Linked DNA regions of Homo sapiens: all the other regions are linked to region 1. Evidence: fine-mapped expression QTL. A gene starts in region 1. Each other region holds a variant in brackets. All regions are shown on one strand. Distances are between the middles of the regions.

Region 1 (5,160 bases):
TTACTACGCTCTATAGAAACAACCCGATAGTCTTCCATGGCAGGAGTAACCTCAAAAATGCGTCATGTCTAACTTTCAAAAGCAAAGCACAGTCATTAATGCACGGTTCAAGCAACCCAGAAGTCGATGTCGGATTACCACACCCCCTTCTAACAAATTACAAGACTTGGTTTGGTTACCTGAAAAGACTGTTGATTAACCAGGCTATAAACCAGGATGAAACCTTGGCCGTTTTTGATGTAGAGATCTCTCATGGAGGCAAACTGCTCAGTTCCTGCGGTGTCCAGAATTTCCAGCACGGAGGGGGAAGAGTCCACTTCGATCTCTTTGCGGTAGAAATCTTCAATGGTGGGGTCATATTTCTCAATGAAAGTCCCAGTGACAAACTGCACAGTAAGGGCAGATTTGCCAACCCCTCCACTCCCTAACACCACTACCTTGTATTCCCTCATGAGTCTCACCTTCACCAACTCCTACCAGAGGGGGGGAAAGATCACCCCGCTAGCTGTGGCGCGGCTAGACGAGGCGGAAGGTGGGCGGAAATCTGCGAACTGGGGAGGAGAGTGCAGAGGAGCAGAGGGCCCAACCGGGGAAGAAGAGGAAGTTACAGGAGGGGGAGGGGAAAGAGCGTAGAGTCGGGGAGGGTGGGGAAGGGATGGTAATGCCCTTCCTATAGGAACTGCAGCCCGAGCAGGGGGCGTGGGGAGGAGGGCGAGCCTGGGAAAAGCCCGGCGAGGGTGGCGAGGAGGCGCGTGCCCCCGGGAGGGAAAGGGTGGGGGCTGCGGCGAGGGGACCCTGCGGCGAGGCGGACGTCGGAGGAGCCCGCAGCCCGGGGCTGCCCGGCACTCCTCCCCCGCCCTTCACACAAAGGGGCCCAGGGACCCCGCTTCCTGCTCGCGCAGCCCAGCCGGCTCAGGCCTGAGGGCTCCGTTCCAGTTACCGCTGCCCGGGCGGGTTTCTGGGCCCCGGCTCCCGCGGGGGTCGTCCGGCCTGTGAAGGGGAGAAGGACGCACATTACCCGGCTGACCCCCGCCCCGAACCTGCGGCGCCGGCCGCCGCCTCCCCCAACTCCCACCCGGATCAAGCTACTGCCGCTTACCCCGCCGTCCGCACCCGCCCGGCCGCCGGGGAGGCTCTGTCACGCCAAGGCCATGGCCACCCGCTGGCTCCTCTGTCTCTCCGCTGCCCCAGCGCTGCTGCTCGCCGCGGGGAAAGAAGCGGGGGCCTTCCGCGGCGGCCGCAGGGACTCCAGGCGAACCCACCTCTTTTTTTTCTCACCCACCCCCCACCCCCACCCCCACCCCCACCCCCACCCCCACCAAGCACACACCCGGAAGGGTTTCCCTGACACACTGGCTGAGGTGCCCCAGTTCCCCGAGACTGGACGGGATCACTTCCGGTGGGGAAAGTCCCACCTCTTCGGGGCGAGCCGGGTGGCGCTGGAGCCGCGCCCTGCTGAGCGAGCGAGCCGGCCGGGGACGGTTTCGGGTCGGGACTCCGGCTTCGGGAACGGGCCTCTGGAAACCTGCGACGTCAGTCCTTACCCGCCCGCGGCTGCCGCGGACCGTCCCACCCCCAAACCCGTAGAAGCCCCTCCGACCTGCAACCTCCAGCCGCCCGGCCCTAGGACTTGAGCGGCTCCCTGGCCGGTGCGGAACCTGCGGGCTAATAATCTAGCGACCGGGAGAACGCCAAACATCCCTGGACTAGAAGTTGCAGGGGAAATCAAACAGCCCAGAAAGTTTATTCTCCTTGCTGGTATTTCTTCCACTTGCTATTTTGCTGAGAGATGCATGCAAACTACCCTTAGACTTTCAGATGCAGTGCGTTTTACTTAGCCGTGCCTGACAAACACACAGAACTTTTACCGTCTGGTAGATCCGCCTTGACTTTACCAGCGAATACTAAAGTCACTTAAAAAAAAATCACAAGGCTCGAAAACAGCAGCATTAGAAGTAGACTTTATGGTACTCTGCTCAGCTATGTTCTCATTTGATTCCAACCACTACACGGCAGAAAAGGTAACCAATATTCAAGAAAGATTTGATTGGAAACGGTTTAGGCCTAAAGACTAATTTATTTTAATCGTTGATTATGTATAACAATTTGCTTGGCTGGCTCTTACATGCTGAAGTTTTGTTTTAAAGGCCATCCTATGTAGTCTTTGAAATTCAAAAGCAAGTAGTAACTCTGGTGTTAGATTCTAAGTTTCTATTTTTAGATAAAATTGTTACTTCCGACTATCTTTCCCTTTGCTAGCTTTCTATTTGTAAACTTTGTGTCGGATCCACAGAGCCCCAGGGCCAGGAGTCTAGGCTGTATTTTAGGTGTGTCACTTTCTTTTCAATTCAAGCATGTACCCAGAAACCTGCGAGACTCAGTGGCCAGCCTAGCAAAAATGACTCCAAATTCCCTTACTTACAAGCCCTAAATGGCCAAACTCTATAAAGAGATTTATTACTCAGCCTAAATTGTTGGACATTAGAACACAGGCGAATCATAGTAGTGTGAGGTCCCACTGTCCCTCCCTGAGTATTCCCCAATGTCACTTACAGTCTTCAAAGGAGAGTTTAGTTCAATTTCTCCTTGACCTCAGGCCGGTGCCATCTCTCCAGCGAAGTCCCCAGCTCTGGCTCCAGCTGGCCTGGGCCCTGTGTCGTATCAGAGGCACTGCCCTCTGCTGGAAGGGGTTTGGTCTGTGAGTTATGAGTTTCCCCACAGGTCACTGCTCCTTTCACACGTGCTGTTGCCTGATTTGGAGCTCTGCTGCTCATCTCCCTGCCTAGCTGTCTCCAGACTGTCTGGTGGGATTCACAGCCCTCCACCAGCCGTGCTTGTAACTGAGTCTGGAAATTCCTCTTCTGATCCAGCCAGTGTTGAGCAATCGTGGCAAGTCTTTGCTCTATTACTAAACTGTCAAAGCAAGGAGTTCTTTTTCAGGTCATCCCACCTGTTGGCAATTCTAATATCTCTGAATGTGTTGGTCATGCTTAGGAGAGAGTTCTTTGTTTCTCCACGCAGTGAAACATACTCCTCCCCTCAGTACAGCGTCCTGTGGGGTCACTCTCGTCAACTACAGTGGACAAATATTACACTCAGTCTAAAGATCCTTCTAAACTTTCTTAGGAAGGGTATTCATTACAGCATTGATTAGGAAATCAAACAATTGGAAGAAGCTTAAATGTCCTTCAGTAGGTGATTTTTAAAAGTTTCATAGCTCTCTATATCTATTATCTATCATCTATCTATCTATCTACCAACCTACCTACCTACCTATCTGTATTCACAGAATAGGATATTATGCAGCTACTTTAAAAGAGAAAAGCAGATTTGTAAGTGTTTATATAAAAAGATGGCCAAGATATATTGTAGGGCTGAAAAAGCAAGATACTGAACAAATGTCTAGTTGCTACTGTTTATGTAAAACGCAGGTGTGTAATAGTTACATAGCCATTCAAATCTGAAACAAAGTAATTATGGGTGAGGACTATTATGAAATGGCTTTTATTTCTCCATATTTTAATTTATAAACAATAATTGGGAAAAAGGAAGTAAATATAACTTTATAATATTTTTAAAGGAGGAACAAAAGAAAGTTGTTGATCTTGGTTTTGTAAAAAAAAAAAAAAAAAATCCTGACTGTCTAGGGGTCAGTGGACAGGTCCGCCCAATTTAAACAAATTCCCTACCCTTGCTTGCCCTCCCCAAACATCTCTATACTTAGAAAAGTATTTTCACATACATTATCTCATTAGACTCCTGTTGTTTGCTAGTGTACTCTCATTAAGCAATGAGGGTATAAAGAGCAAGCAGAAGAGTGCGGCCTGGCAGTTGAGAGCTAAGGCTCTGAAATGAGACAGAGGTGCATTAAAATTGCAGCTCCGCCACATTCTAGCTCTGTGTCCCCAAGCAAGTGATTTCACTTGTCTGAGCCTCTAACTCCTCACTTGTAAAAAGGAGATAAGAAGTTAACGTGAAAATGTAATGAGGTATTACAGGTAAAGTGCTTAGCACAGTCCCTTGCACATTATAAAGCCTCAATAAATGCTATTTGGTTTTTATTTAAAAGATTTAATGAATTGTTAATTTTTAAAAAATAGCAAACATGGGGGTAACAAAATTTTAAAAGCTCAAATATCTGCAAGTGGCACGAAAATAATAATTCAGTTACTCTTCACAAAGATATTTATTGTTAAAAGCTTCTTATGTTTTTCAGGGGGGAACATTATTCATATGTCAGTGTATCAATCTACCTTCTATATATATTTTTAAAAATTACTGTACTACAAAAGTAATCAACTGTACACACTATTTTTTACCTTGCTTTTTAAACTTTAATTAATTAATTTTTTTAAGACAGTGTCTCCCTCTGTTACCCAAGCTGGAGGGCAGTAGCATGATCATAGCTCACTGCAGCCTCAACCTCCTGGACTCAAGGGATCCTCCCACCTCAGCCTCCCGAGTAGCTAGGACTACAGGTACATGCCACCACACACAGCTAATTTAATTTAATTTAATTTTTTTGGTAGAGATGGAGTCTTACTATGTTGCCCATGGTGGTCTCCAACTCCTGAGCTCAAGGGATCCTCCCGACTTGGCCTCCCAAAGTGCTGGGATTAAAGGCATGAGCCACCATGTCTGGCCTTCTTAATTTTTATTTCATGGCTGTATCATAAGCTAATTAGCCAGCTCCCCTTTGAAGGACACTGATTGCTTCTAGGTTTTTGCACTAAACGCCTTGGACATATATCATTGTCAGTTAATGTTTAGGGTGAATTTCTAGTAATTCAATAATTGAAACAAAAGGCACTTGCACTTAAAATTCTTCTGGTAAGTATTGCCAAATTGTCCTTCAGAAAGGTCACACCAATTCACATTCCCACCAATGCAGTATGACCGTATCATTTTATAACCTCACAGTAGGTATTACTAATTTTAGCATTTTATAGTGATTGTTACTTGCTTTAGGGTATTTTCAGGACTAACAAATGCAGGGCAGCGTTTTAGAAGGAATTTGGACTTCAGAGCCAGACAGTCCTAACACTGCCCTTTTGCAAGCTACACCTCCATTCCTTCATTTGTAAAGTTGGGCATAATAGCAGTATCTAACTCATAGAATAATAAATGAGAAATCCATTCAAAGCATTTAGCCTTCCAAAT
Region 2 (5,160 bases), 180 kb after region 1:
CACAGAAAAATTCATGTATGCAAAAAATGTTGCTTGTGATCTCAGCAAGTTCAAGGACCCCACGACACTCACCCCTGGTGTGGGGTTATGAACTACTTACTGGTTAAGAATCTCTGTTCTAGAGTAAGGCTCTGCAAACTAGGGCCCATAAGCCAAATTCAGCCTGCCTGTGTTTTTGTATGGCCAGCAATCTAAGAATGTTTTTTACAGTTTTAAATGATTGAAAAAAATAAGAGAATAATATTTAGTGAAACATGAAAATTATAGGAAACTCTTATTCCAGTGTCCATCCACAAATTTCATTGTGCTCATTAGTAGAGCTGTATTACAAAAAATTGTAGATATTTGTTTCCTCTCTTGTTATATAAGTACCTATATAATACCCTCAACTTTGCATCTTGAACCTCACAGCCTAAAATATTTATATTTAGCCATTCACAAGAAAGTTCACCGACCTTGGTTCTAAATGATTTCAAAAAATGAAATTCTCCAACGCTTTCAGGAGTAAAGCACCAAATATATATTCATATATATTCATATATATTCATATATATATATTCCTATATATATTCATATATATTCATATATATATTCCTATATATATTCATATATATTCCTATATATATATTCCTATATATATTCATATATATTCCTATATATATATTCCTATATATATTCATATATATTCCTATATATATTCCTATATATATTCATATATATTCATATATATATTCATATATATATTCCTATATATTCCTATATATATTCCTATATATATTCCTATATATATTCCTATATATATTCCTATATATATTCATATATATATTCATATATATTCACATATATATATTCACATATATATTCACATATATATATTCATATATATATATTCATATATATATTCATATATATATTCATATATATTCATATATATATTCATATATATATATATTCATATATATATTCATATATACATATATATATTCATATATATATTCATATATATTCATATATACATATATATATTCATATATATATTCATATATACATATATATTCATATATATATTCATATATACATATATATTCATATATATATTCATATATACATATATACATATATATTCATATATACATTCATATATATATTCATATATATTCATATATATATGAATATATATGAATATATATGTATATGAATTTAGTATTTGTAGCAAGATTCCACAAATTGAAAATGTTTGGCTTTGTAAACCAATACTAAGGTATTCACTAAAATGTTCTTTTACATAGTTACTAATATTAGGATTAGGATTTTTAACTATTTGTTTATAGAACAATCACTACTCCGTGACTAAGAATGGGGAAATAGTAGTTGGAATCCTGTAAAGGTAAAAATTTTAAAAGCCACCACAGATTGCTCTTAAAGGATTCTGAGGCAATGCAATTCAATGCAAAACTATGCCTCAAATAAATGTCTAGTTTACACACACTTTAGGAACAGTGACTTAACAGGTTATTTCTCAAGCTAGTATAAATAAATGAAAATTAAATGTTATGCCAAATCAATCTTTGTGTCTCCTCAATAGCCTAGATCTATTTGTAGTTACCTCAAAAATATCCAAGATCAATTACAATTATTGTTGGATGAATGTAAAATATTTCAAAATCCTGGCCTAAGGTCAACAGAATAATCGGGGCCTTCCATCTCTGAGTTCCTGTCTAGAGTTGAATGACTAGATATTTTCTTTTACAGAAGGGTAAACATTTGGTAACAATTTGTTGACCCAATTTTAATACAAGAAAAATAGCACTCATAAATTTTACTAGCGTCATAATATCTTCATTTTATTGCTCATTTGCAAGCATTTATATAATATAAAAGGAAGGCTCTTTTTACGGTCATCATGCATATTTCTATCTTTAGATAATCCCAAAATGCACTGAAATCCATAATTTTAGTTTCCATCAGACTTCACTTTCACACAGAGTACAATTGAATAATCTCTCTTTCACAGTATTTGCTTGGTCATTTCCACACTCCTTGAGTAATGTTCCGTGGGGACTGAAGTGGCCAAAATGCAGGCTGCAGGAGACCCACATAACCTCCAGACTAGTTAATTAGTTTCTCAATAATTGAGAGTTAACTTTAAAAACAGATGCAAGCTGATAGTGGTGTTTAAGTACTAATCGTACTTGTTAATGAATAAGTCCCCATGGCTCTAGAGAGAGCTAAGAAAAAAAAAGTTCATGGGTCAAAAGTGAACCATTGTCCTCACCTAGACCTGGATTTTCTGATCTTATTAATCAGAGAATTCTCCAAGTAAGAGGAACCATTGAAGGCAGGCAGGTTAGTTGAAAGATCAATAGGTGATTGTGAGTATAAGAGGTATAAAGAATAACACAAATGAGAACACAAGTCATGGTTCAGAGCTACCCATATTTGCTGGGAGGAGAAATACAACAGCAGGCCAGGAATCATAAAGGAGTACCTAAACACAGATCAGCACATCACCTAGGAAGAGAGCAAATGATTGACACTTATAAGCAGGGTAACTTTGACATTGTTCCTGAGGAGGTGAACAGGAATTGACCTAAAAATTTGTTGGTGACCACCGTGTAATAATAATGGCAATTCAATTAACTTTAGTATTCTAGTAGGAAACAAAGATTATTTTTTAAAAAATCAAGTTTGTGGCATGGATTGTAGTAATAGTATCATGAGCATCTGTTTGTCTCCAAAGTCATCAATTTGTATACATTGAACATGTGCAGCTTTTGTGTGTCAATCATACCTCATTGAAGTAGTTCAAAGAATTAAGTGGTTATCTAGTTTTAACAAAGGGTATAAACAAAATGTGGGTTTTTGGGAGATAAATAGGAAGAACTGAGCAAAGCAAGGAACCCACAGGAAACCTGGAGACTATTTATGAACATGTCAGTGAAAGTTAGATAAATAGGTAGGCTAAGAGTTTAAAATTATCA[A/G]GGGTTTGACCAACCACAACCACCACCACCACCACCATCAAAACAACACAAACCAAAACAGAACCTTGCATGGCTAATAGAAAGATAATTCTATGTTGAAAAAAGAAAGGCCCAAAGCTACAAAAATATGAAGAATCAGGTACAAATCAGAAATTAAGGGGACCAGAAAATATTCATCCAACATCTTACTTTTGTTACATAACGAATTCCTAGAGGGTAGAGTTTGTTTCTTGATCATCTTTTTATCCACCCTTTACTCATTTAAATACCTGTCACAGAGTATATGCTCAATACTTACTGAATTCAATAAAAAGGGATTCCTAAACCATTAATTAATTTTTGATTTACTAAATAGATCAACCCAATTTAAAAATCAGAGTGCAAAAAGAAGTAAAAGTAGTTTCAAAAATGGTGGCAAAGAAATTGAATAAATCCTTCAGTCTTGTTCTCCACTGAGGAAGACTTTAGGCAGATGGCTAGTCCTAAGCTGTCTTTTGATAAAGATATGAATTGCTAGATCAAACAGTATGAAAAGCACAGGGTATTTTATACATACATATGTACATATGTACATACATGAATCCCATATGTGTATGTATTTTTAAAATTGGAGTGGCTAAATCCATACTAGAAGGTACCTAATTAAGAGTTCTAAAAAAAAGTGATTTAGTGATACTATAGATAAAAATATGTAACTTTATTACAAAGTGTATAAAAAGTAATTTTTTATACACTTTGTAATACACAAAGTAATTCACACCTTTTTATACACAAAGTAATTCACAATGTGTATAATCCAGGTGATTAATGAATTGCTAATGTGACTGGTATCCAGAGTGGTTCAAGAGAGAAGACCACGGAAAGAAGGGTGTAAATGAATATTTAACAGATGATTACAGGATATTAAGGCAAATTAGAAATGCTTGGGGGTACCACTTTAATTATCAGGTGGTAGGGCAGCCACAGGTTTTTATATAAGGTCTCCTCTCATTGACAAATTACTGAGCCATACCAACCTGCAGGTAAAAAAAAAAAAAAAAATTCACAGAGCCCACCAAACTCCCAGCCTTCACCTCATTTGTGATCAACAGCAAGCAATCTCAAGGTAGCTGGCTGTAGCTTACACTGTGACCACGAACAGTGAAGCTCACAGGCCACCATGGTCTCATTAGCACCAGGCTCCAACTAACTGAGCTAACCAGCCCCAGAGGAGAAGGACACAAAATAGAGGAGGTTACATGTAATTTATCTCACGGGAATATATAAAGGATGATAAAGGGAGAATGTTGAGATTTGTGACTATCAAAGAAACTGGACACTATAGAAGATATACCTAATGCTAAATGATGAGTTAATGGGTGCAGCACACCAGCATGGCACATGTATACATATGTAACTAACCTGCACATTGTGCACATGTACCCTAAAACTTAAAGTATAATAATAATAAAATAAAATAAAGAAGATATCATGTACAAGTGTCCTCTGTTTGGCTGCAAAAGTGTAGCATTTTCATTCAACTTTTGAAAAAAGCAGATTTCACAGTGTCTATTAACAGAGATGGGGCAAAGCAGCAAAGGGACTGCTAGGGGATTTATTTTGTTTTAACGTAAAAGAAGCTTTAAGCTATGTGACATACACAGTCTTATTAGCAAAAGGCCCGAATAACTACTCTACTTTGGACCAGTAATTGCAATGAGGAGCAAATCTAGGATATGTGGGGTCTGAAGCTTAGACCACTGGGTGGGGAAGTGGAGCCTTAAGAATGAAACACACGAATATATTTTGCAAATTTTACAAACACATTTTAAACACGTTGCTAGGACCCCTCTCAGGGTTTTGGAAGGAAACCATGCAAATGAGCATCCCTAAACCCCTCATGTTAGTCTCAGGGTAAGTACACCTTAAAAACAATGTTAGTTGAACAAACAGATTACAGTAGGCTTCAGTTGATATACCTAAAAGTAAAATTTTGTCTAATCTTTCAGAAAATGTAGTAAAATCCAGATGATCATGGCATGGTAGCACTCCAGGCACTTCTGTGATATGATTTGGTCAACCTCAATGCGGAAGTTCACATGATCATGACTGTTGTAATTATATTAAGAGCATATTAACCTTATAATTACATAATGCTTGTCTTTCCTAACTTGAAAATTTTGCAAAAATCATTTACAAA
Region 3 (5,160 bases), 750 kb before region 1:
AAATTATTCCAATCAATAGAAAAAGAGGGAATCCTCCCTAACTCATTTTATGAGGCCAGCATCATCCTGATATCAAAGCCTGGCAGAGACACAACAAAAAAAAGAATTTTAGACCAATATCCCTGATGAACATTGATGCAAAAATCCTCAATAAAATACTGGCAAACCAAATCCAGCAGCACATCAAAAAGCTTATCCACCATGATCAAGTGGGCTTCATCCCTGGGATGCAAGGCTGGTTCAACATATGCAAATCAATAAACATAATCCAGCATATAAACAGAACCAAAGACAAAAACCACATGATTATCTCAATAGACGCAGAAAAGGCCTTTGACAAAATTCAACAGCCTTCATGCTAAAAACTCTCAATAAACTCGGCATTGATGGGACGTATCTCAAAATAATAAGAGCTATTTATGACAAACCTACAGCCAATATCATACTGAATGGGCAAAAACTGGGAGCATTCCCTTTGAAAACTGGCACAAGACAGGGATGCCCTCTCTCACCACTCCTGATCAACATAGTGTTGGAAGTTCTGGCCAGGGCAATCAGGCAAGAGAAAGACATAAAGTGTATTCAATTAGGAAAAGAGGTAGTCAAATTGTCCCTGTTTGCAGATGACATGATTGTATATTTAGAAAACCCCATCGTTTCAGCCCAAAATCTCCTTAAGCTGATAAGCAACTTCAGCAAAGTCTCAGCATACACAATCAATGTGCTACAGTAACCAAAATAGCATGGTACTGGTACCAAGACAGAGATATAGCCCAATGGAACATAACAGAGCCCTCAGAAATAAAACTGCATATCTACAACCATCTGATCTTTGACAAACCAGACAAAAATAAGAAATGGGGAAAGGATTACCTATTTAATAAATAGTGCTGGGAAAACTGGCTAGCTATATGTAGAAAGCTGAAACTGGATCCCTTCCTTACACTTTATACAAAAATTAATTCAAGATGGATTAAGGACTTAAATGTTAGACCTAAAACCTTAAAAACCCTAGAAGAGCACCACTGCACACCAGCTTGGGTGATAGGGCCAGACTCTGTCTCAAAAAAACAAACAAACAAACAAAAAAAAACCCCTAGAAGAAAATCTAGGCAATACCATTCAGGACATAGGCATGGGCAAAGACTTCATGACTATAATACCAAAAGCAATGGCAACAAAAGCCAAAATTGACAAATGGGATCTAATCAAACTAAAGAGCTTCTGCACAGCAAAAGAAACTACCATCAGAGTGAACAGGCAGCTTACAGAATGGCAGAAAATTTTTGCAATCTACCCAACTGATAAAGGGCTAATATCCAGAATCTACAAAGAGCTTAAACAAATTTACAAGAAAAAAACAAACAACCCCATCAAAAAGTGGGCAAAGGATATGAACAGACACTTCTCAAAAGAAGACATTTATGCAGCCAACAGACACATGAAAAAATGCTCATCATCACTAGCCTTCAGAGAAATGCAAATCAAAACAACACTGAGATACCATCTCACACCAGTTAGAATGGCGATCATTAAAAAGTCCGGAAACAACAGGTGCTGGAGAGGATGTGGAGAAACAGGAACACTTTTACACTGTTGGTGGGACTGTAAACTAGTTCAACCATTGTGGAAGTCGGTGTGGTGATTCCTCAAGGATCTAGAACTAGAAATACCATTTGACCCAGCCATCCCATTGCTGGGTATATACCCAAAGGATTATAAATCGTGCTACTATAAAGACACATGCACACGTATGTTTATTGCAGCAGTATTCACAATAGCAAAGACTTGGAACCAACCCAGATGTCCATCAATGATAGACTGGATAAAGAAAATGTGGCACATATAACCATGGAATAGTATGCAAACATAAAAAAGTATGAGTTCATGTCCTTTGTAAGGACGTAGATGAAGCTGGAAACCACCATTCTCAGCAAACTATCGCCAAGGGCAGAAAGCCACACACCGCATTTTCTCACTCATAGTTGGGAATTGAAAAATGAGAACACTGGGACACAGGGCCAGCAATATCACATACCGGGGCCTGTTGTGGGTTGGGAGAAGTGGGAGTGTAACAAACCTGCATGTTGTGCACATGTACCCTAGAACTTAAGGTATAATAATAATAATAAAAAGACTCAATTCTACGTATAGCTTATCTTGGGCTAGGTGGAATCTGTCATTTACAGAGTGATCATCCTCATCATGAGTCCTATTATCCATAGCTCAAGAAACCAGGAGGTGTAATGGTTACTAGACAGGGTCCTGTGTAAATTTTCATCACCTCAAGAATGACTAAATATAGCTGGTTGTTTACTCTTCTAATTTTAATTCTGTTGGTTTAAAACGTGAGGAGAAAGCCTCCACACAGCACATTCAATGTGCTCTGGTGTATGGCCACAGACTCCCTTGATTTTAGATTATTCAATCCTCTTAATTTACACTGTATTGGTAGTACTCTTTCATGTTGTACAAAGGATTTTATAGTTCCAATTTTGAAAAGCACCTAATGAAAATTCTTAACTCCAAACTATTTAAATATTACTCTGAATAATGGTCTCGAATACTTGCAATTTGTTTACTCTTACAATTGTACTACTAAAGTCTCATTTTTGAACTCAGAATATAGACTATTAAATTATTTTAAACAGGCAACTTCATTACTCCACCCAAATGATAGACCTTATTAACC[A/G]TCCATCATTAATGCATGCCAGTCTCCTTGACAAAATGCAAATCTTGGATTCTCAAGCAAATGTTTACAAGATGGGCAGGTAGGATCTCAGAATGGCAATATGCTAATGAGAAATTTTATATTTCTATCATCTTGTAGGATTATCCACTGGGAAAATCATAAGATCATTTGTATCTCTTATTGACTATTATTTGATATTTGATGTATGGAAACAAGTTGTATGAGTATATGAATACAGTATGGAATGCTGGCTAGTGATTCTTATATAGAACCTCTACTGTAGTACCACGAAGAGTCATTAGATACACAGTTTTTAAAGAGATACAGAACAATTTTGAATAAAGTGGCATGTGTTTTGGCCACTCTTTCTTTTAAAATTTGTTTTGATGACTGGAGACCACTTTGGACAATTTGGATTCACAAACTCTGTCATAAAAAAAGAAGGATAAACATTCTTCTATATGCAGATGATTTGATTTTACTGCAGAAAACTAAGATTAATTTCAAAAGACACTGTCCCTGCCGTCTAAATACTGTCAGTGCTAATGGCTTCAGATCAGCTCTCCCAAAATCCAAACCATTATTTTTAGTAGAAATCTTCCAATATTTAAGCGGCTTATGAATAACAGCCTTATACAGCATGACCATGTATTTGGTTATGACTATGTATTAGTTACATTGTAATCATTGGCATATGTATTCTCTCTGTAAATTCACCAAGAAATTACATTGTTTTGCTTTTGCGTTAAATGAGATGTTCTATAATTGCTTTGTTGAGGTTTTTTTAAAATTACTATAGTGGGTAATTAGTAATACTTGCTTTAGAAATATTGAACACTAGAATAATTGCAGATATGCCATATAAGTGTTGTTTTTAAATTATATGTTTTTAAATTAATAGACTATTTTTAAGAACAGTTTTAGGTTTACAGAAACAATTGAACAGAAAGTACAGAGAGTTCCCATATACTTCCCTAGCCCCCTGAGATAATTTCCCCTATTAGCATTTTGCATTAGTATGGTACATCTGTTATAATTGATATATAAATATGGATGCAGTATTAACTAAAGTTCATAGTTAGCATTAGAGTTACTCTTAGTGTTGTACATTCTACGGATCTTGACAAATGTATACTGATATGTATCCACAATTACAGTATAACACAGAATAGTTTTATTGCCCTAAAAAATCCTCCTTACTCCATCTGTTTATTCCTCCACCCCTTTCCTCCAAAGCCTGGCAACCACTTATATTTTTACTGTTTTCATCCTTTTCCCTTTCCAATAGTGCTGTATAGTTGGAATCATAGTGTGTTGCCTTTTCAGATTGATTTCTTTGACTTAACAATACGTTCTTAACATTCATCTACGTTCTTTAGTAGCTTGGCATCTTGTTTCTTTTTATTGCTGAATAATATTCTATGGTATGTATGTATCACAGTTTGTTTATCCACTCAACTATTGATATTGAAAGGCATCTTGGTTGCTTTCAAGTTTTGGCAATTATGAATAAACATGCTGTAAAGATTTGTGTGCAGGTTTTTGTGTAAGCAGTTTTCTTCTTTTTTTAAAATTGTATAAATGTAAGGGGAACAAGTTCAACAACTAATTTTGGTAAGTACTAAGAGATACAATTGCTGGATCATATGGTTAAGAATACATTCAATTTTGTAAGAAACTGCCAAACTGTTTGCCAGAGTGACTATACCATTTTGTATTCCCAGTCAGAGTTACTGTTGTTCCACATCCTCATCAGCATTCAGTATTGTGTTATAAATTTTAGCTATTTTAATATCTGTATAATAAGTATCTCATTTTAAATTGCAATTCCCTGATGACTTGATATTGAGCATCTTTTCATATGCTTGTTATTTGTGTATCTTTTTTACTTTCGTTTTTTAATTTTAATTTTCTAACTTTTAATTAAAAATAAAAATTGTATATATTGTATATGGGTTACAACGTGATGTTTTGATGTATATTTACATTATAGAATGACTAAATCAAGCTAGTTGACAAATCCATCACCTTACATACTTCTCATTTTTTTCATAATGGAAACATTTAAAATTTACTTTTAGCAGTTTTAAAATATACAAATGCATTATTATTTATTATAATCACCATTCCGTATGATAGATCACTAAAGCTTATTCCTCCTGTCTAACTGAAATTCTGTACCCTTTGATCAACACATCTCCTTTCCTCGCCTATTGCCCTCTCTCAGCCTCTGGTAATCATCATTCTACCCTTTCTTTCTATGAGTTTCACTTTTTTAGATTGCACATTTAAATGAGATCATGTGGTATTTTTATTTCTGTGCCTAGCTTATTTAGTGTAACATAATATTCTCTAGTTTCATCTATGTTGTCGCAAATGACAGGACTTCATTCTTAAGGCTGAATAGTATTCCATTGTCTATATATGCTATATTTTCTTTATCCATTCATCTGATGACAGACACCTAG
Region 4 (5,160 bases), 340 kb before region 1:
TCTACTCATCTGACAAAGGGCTAATATCCAGAATCTACAAAGAACTCAAACAAACTTACAAGAAAAAAACAAACAACCCCATCAAAAAGTGGGCAAAGATATGAACAGACACTTCTCAAAAGAAGACATTTATGTAGTCAACAGACACATGAAAAAATGCTCATCATCACTGGCCATCAGAGAAATTCAAATCAAAACCACAATGAGATACCATCTCACACCAGTTAGAATGGCGATCATTAAAAAGTCAGGAAACAACAGGTGCTGGGGAGGATGTGGAGAAATAGGAACACTTTTACACTGTTGGTGGGACTGTAAACTAGTTCAACCACTGTGGAAGACAGTGTGGTGATTCCTCAAGGATCTAGAACTAGAAATACTATTTGACCCAGCCATCCCATTATTGGGTATATACCCAAAGGATTATAAATCATGCTGATATAAAGGCACATGCACATGTATGTTTATGGTGGCACTATTCACAATAGCAAAGATTTGGAACCAACCCAAATGTCCATCAATGATAGACTGGATTAAGAAAATGTGGCACATATACACCATGGAATACTATGCAGCCATAAAAAAGGATGAGTTGATGTCCTTTGTAGGGACATGGATAAAGCTGGAAACCATCATTCTCAGCAAACTATTGCAAGGACAAAAAACCAAACACCGCATGTTCTCACTCATAGGTGGGAATTGACCAATGAGAACACTTGGACACAGGAAGGGGAACATCACACACCAGGGCCTGTTGTGGGGTGGGGGGAGGGGAGAGGGATAGCATTAGGAGATATACCTAATGTACATGATGAGTTAATGGGTGCAGCACACCAACATGGTACATGTATACATATGTAACAAACCTGCACGTTGTGCACATGTACCCTAGAACGTAAAGTATATAAAAAAAATCACCAGGGTCCCAGACAGCTGAACTTTCGCGGAGTTTATCTCCCACATTTTGACATCTGTGCCTTAGTAAGGGTATCTAAGGTAATTATTACTTCCGTATCAGTTCAATTAGCATAATTACGTCAGTGTAATAGACCAGTGTAATATTTTCTAGAATGTTGAGATAATCAAGACTCCCTTGGACTGATTGTATTATGACAGAGCAGGAAAATAGATTTTGGTCAATGTAAGACTGAGAAGGTGTGCTGTTGACATTAACAGGTAAAGATATACTGTTTCTGATGATTTTTTCTGATGGGAATTTAAAAGGATGCATTTGCTTGGTCAGTGGCTGCAAAACAAAGTGGCAGAGCTGTTTCAGTTTGCTACAATCTGAAGATACCATGTCTGAAACTGCAGTGGTGAATTGCATCACCCTTTTGTTTATAATAATCCACAGTCTTTTATAATACCCACATGACTTTTGCACTTGACAAACAGGTAAATTAAATGAAGTTGTTATAAGAATCAACATCCATGCATTTTTTGAGGCCTTGGTAGTGGCACTGATCTCTGTAGCTCCCCCCAAAGATAAGGTATTGATTTGGATTTATTATTTGGGTGAGGATATTGAGGGGAGAAACAAGTTAATAGGATCTTCACTCGGCCCTTTCTACTGCAAGAGCCCTCATTCCATGGTGATTCTGACAGTTTCTAAGTATACTTATTCCTGCTATATATCAAAGGACTGGGAAAATCATTACAGAGTGCATCTGTGGGACCAATGGATCCAACGTTAAATAAACTTGGGCCAGTGCTCGGTCTATCCCCTGAATTTCAGAAACTACCATTCTGATCAGTAGGCCATGATGGTATTTGGGATCTCCAAGTTAATAAACGGTACCTGATGATTCTTGGAAGAGCTGGAAATTTCTCTTTTCACAGTGCATAGTAGCCCTGGTAAAGGGTTGCATTTCTTTCCGGGTGAGATTTAAAGGAAGATTCACTGTACAGGCACATCTTGTTTAGTGGCGCTTTGCTTTACTGCACTTTGCAGATACTATGTTTGCTACAAATAGAAGATTTGTGGCAACCCTGCATTGGTTAAGTTTACTGGTGTCATTTTTCCTACAGAATGTGCTCACTTTGTGTCTCTGTGTCACATTTTGGTCATTCTCACAATATTTCAAACTGTTTCATGATTGTTATATCTTTTATGGTAATCTGTCATCAGAGATCTTTCTTGTTACTATTATAATTGTTTTGGGGTGCCAGGCATGCCCATATAAGACACTGAAGTTAATCAGTAAATATTGTGCTTATTCTGACGGCTCCACCAACCGGCCATTCCCCCATCTCTCTTTCTCTCCTCTGGCCCCCTTATTCCCTGAGATAAAACAATATTGGAATTAGTCCAATTAATAACCCTGCAATGGCTTCTAAATGTTCAAGTAAAAGGAAGAGTTGCACATCTTTCACTTTAAATCAAAAGCTAGAAATGATTAAGCTTAGTGAGGAAAGCAGGTCAAAAGCTGAGACAGGCTGGGAGCTGGGCCTCTTGTGCCAAAACAGCAGCAGGGTTTGAGAGGATTGACTCCAGTCTTGAAGGAAGTTCTACTGTGTGTAACATGCTATTAAACAGCATCACATGCTATAGAGAAATCTTTCATGAAAGGAAGGGTCAATCGATGTGGCAAACTTCATTGTTGTCTTATTTTGAGAAATTGCCACAGCCACCCTACCCTG[A/G]TCAGTTAGCAGCCATCCACATTGAGGCAAGACCCTCTGCCAACATGAAGATGACGACTTGCTGAAGGCTCAGATGATCATTAGCATTTTTAGCAATAGAGTATTTTTAAATTAAGGTATGTACATTGATTTTTAAAGACATAATGTTATTACACACTTAATAGACTAAAGTATACTTTAAACATAACTTTTATATGCACTGGGAAGCCAAAAAGTATGTGTGACTTGCCACATTGATATATTAACTGTTTTATAGTGTTCTGGAACTGTACACGCCCTGTCTCCGGCATATACCTGTATAGACTTGTGGTTGCATTGTAAGATTCTTCCAAAAAGAGGCATTGCCTCCCCTACAATCAAGGATCTCTAGGCCTGTAAAAAGGAATAGGCTGGGAACCAAATAAGAGACCATTATGATTTCTTACTATGGCAACTTGAGTCAGGTTTCTACTAAAATGTTTCCTCTTGCACAGATTAATTGCACCTTAGTAGGCTACCTATCTCATTCATTTCTCTGAATCTTGTGATTAATTAGCTACCACACCGATCACTGCAGGCCAGAAAACATTCTATATGTGCCTTATTGTGGTAATTTGGCCATCTTGTCAATGATGGTTAAGCACACCACCTGGCCACACTTCTCTGGGATATAATTATTATTGTTCAAAGCTGGGCTCCCAATTCCATGTTGATAACTACCACAATAACCTTGGGATATGGAGGGAAACCACCATAGATCTTTCTTAGCACGGATTTTGTAATGCCTTCGTGAAGACACTGTCTTCTGGTCTCTCCCAAAGGCTGTAGTTAAGGCGTGACTGAGCAAGTTACGTGAAACAGATCTGTGACTTTCCCATCTTTCTTCTTAAATCTTTGTGTTCCTTTCTTAAAACTATACTAAGAAAGTCTGATACCTTAACCCAGTTGACTGTATGCTACAATTGATTTTAAATAACCAAGTCAAAAGACAGTTAGCAATACTCCCAAGTGCTCAAGTTAACAAATTAAATCCAGAATTTCAGATAAATACACCCATATCAATAAATTCAACCAAATACAATTTCATGTTTTTCCTTGTTGGTCTAATACTCTTTGTATACATTTCCATATCTGCCCTTCAAATTCCTGCTGACATAAATTAGCAAACCTTGCAACTCTTTTAACACATACATTATCTCCTCCCTGATCACATCTTGCATTTCTTCTGTGGTATATTGGGACCTAATTTTAAATCCTACATTCAATAAAGGATACTGACAATAGATTCTGAGAAGAATAAATATTTTTTGTGAGGCAACTTCCTCAGGTGAAGACATTGAAAAGACTTCATGCAAAGGAAGAATGGCACCCTCACATTAATGGGTTGGGGTGGATTGCTACTGCTTCTGGATCTGCCCAAATGTCCTCATCCCACAGCTTATGGTCCCACACTTTTCCTACTATTGCCCTTAACCTAGCATAACTTGGTGAGGTTGTGACAGTGCTACAACTTTTGAATTCTTACAATCAGGCCTTTGTCCTGCTTCTCAGCCATGTCTGCCCTTAATATAGGTAGGTTAATGAAGGGATTCTAGTTAAGACTGCCAGAGACTCTGATTCTCCATTCTCTGCTTTGATTTGAGAATTTAAGGTATTAGGTTTATCTTTTCGTCCTACTTCTCTGAACACTCATTCATGTTCTCCTTCAGATGCTTTCCTCCTCAATATAGTCATTAAACATTGGAGTTACTCAAGACTTGCTACTGGGCCCTCTCCTCTTCACATTGTATTCTCTCTCTTTGAGAAAGTATCCATTTCCAGTAGTTTCAATGATCATTTGATGTCTGTAGGCACCTCAAAATCTACATGTACAAAATGTAACCATTACTCCTTTAATATTTGCTCTTCCCCTTATGTTTCTTATTTCAGTGAATGGCACTGCAACCCACACAGTTGACAATGGCAAAATCTTTGATATCGCTTCCAATTTCTCACTCTCAATCATGACCACCCACATCCAACTTATCAATAATTATTGTAAACTGTATGTCCTAAAATTTTACAAAAAACTACATTCTAGACAAAAAAAACCTCCAGGAAGGTAGGAAGAGTATATTTTTCTCTACTGTTTCATCACCATGTGGCATGTAGTAGGTTGCTGATAAATATTGCTGTATTAATGAATCAATCCATAATTGAACAAATGAATGAGTATGCACTTTTCTCCTCATTTTCTTTGCTACTATTCTACTTCAGGTTACCATTACTTCTCACCTGACTTACCACAATGCCTTCTTAACTGGTCTCTCTAACTTTAGTCATCTGTGCTTTCATCTATCCATCATGCTGTAGTCAGATTTACCTCTCCATTCAGGCCATCTCTTTGTGTAAAAGCTTTCAATATCTTAAAGATGTAATAGTTGCATTTTTCTCTATTCCCCCTACTAAGTACAATGAAAAGCCCTGGGCAATATGTATAAAATAAACGTACAAAGATGCTCAAAGGCGAAGAGAAGAAGGCAGATCAGCTAGGGACCTTGA

What was found.
Region 2: its variant is fine-mapped to the expression of RAP2C in whole blood (GTEx, PIP above 0.99). The same link has a PIP of 0.9 or more in cerebral cortex.
Region 3: its variant is fine-mapped to the expression of RAP2C in sigmoid colon (GTEx, PIP 0.99).
Region 4: its variant is fine-mapped to the expression of RAP2C in whole blood (TOPMed, PIP 0.93).

The regions. Positions count from the first base shown.
Region 1 is chrX:132,216,817-132,221,976 of GRCh38, forward strand. RAP2C (RAP2C, member of RAS oncogene family) reads right to left here and starts at 2,631. Exons shown (of 6, transcript NM_001271186.2): 1 at 2,554-2,631; 2 at 1,416-1,525; 3 at 1,100-1,196; 4 at 180-990. The coding sequence starts at 452. It overlaps RAP2C-AS1 (RAP2C antisense RNA 1), which reads left to right and starts at 1,691. Exons shown (of 3, transcript NR_110410.1): 1 at 1,691-2,021. RefSeq lists silencers at 621-1,060, 1,071-1,120 and enhancers at 2,553-2,622, 2,953-3,002.
Region 2 is chrX:132,395,800-132,400,959 of GRCh38, forward strand. The region is part of intron 3 of MBNL3 (muscleblind like splicing regulator 3); the gene reads right to left. All of the region lies in intron 2 of RAP2C-AS1 (RAP2C antisense RNA 1), which reads left to right. Among named protein-coding and RNA genes, the nearest start is that of MBNL3, 91 kb to the right of the region's middle. The variant A/G (reference allele first, on the strand shown) is at 2,982.
Region 3 is chrX:131,465,097-131,470,256 of GRCh38, forward strand. No RefSeq gene overlaps it. Among named protein-coding and RNA genes, the nearest start is that of OR13H1, 76 kb to the right of the region's middle. The variant A/G (reference allele first, on the strand shown) is at 2,693.
Region 4 is chrX:131,875,447-131,880,606 of GRCh38, forward strand. No RefSeq gene overlaps it. Among named protein-coding and RNA genes, the nearest start is that of FIRRE, 47 kb to the left of the region's middle. The variant A/G (reference allele first, on the strand shown) is at 2,641.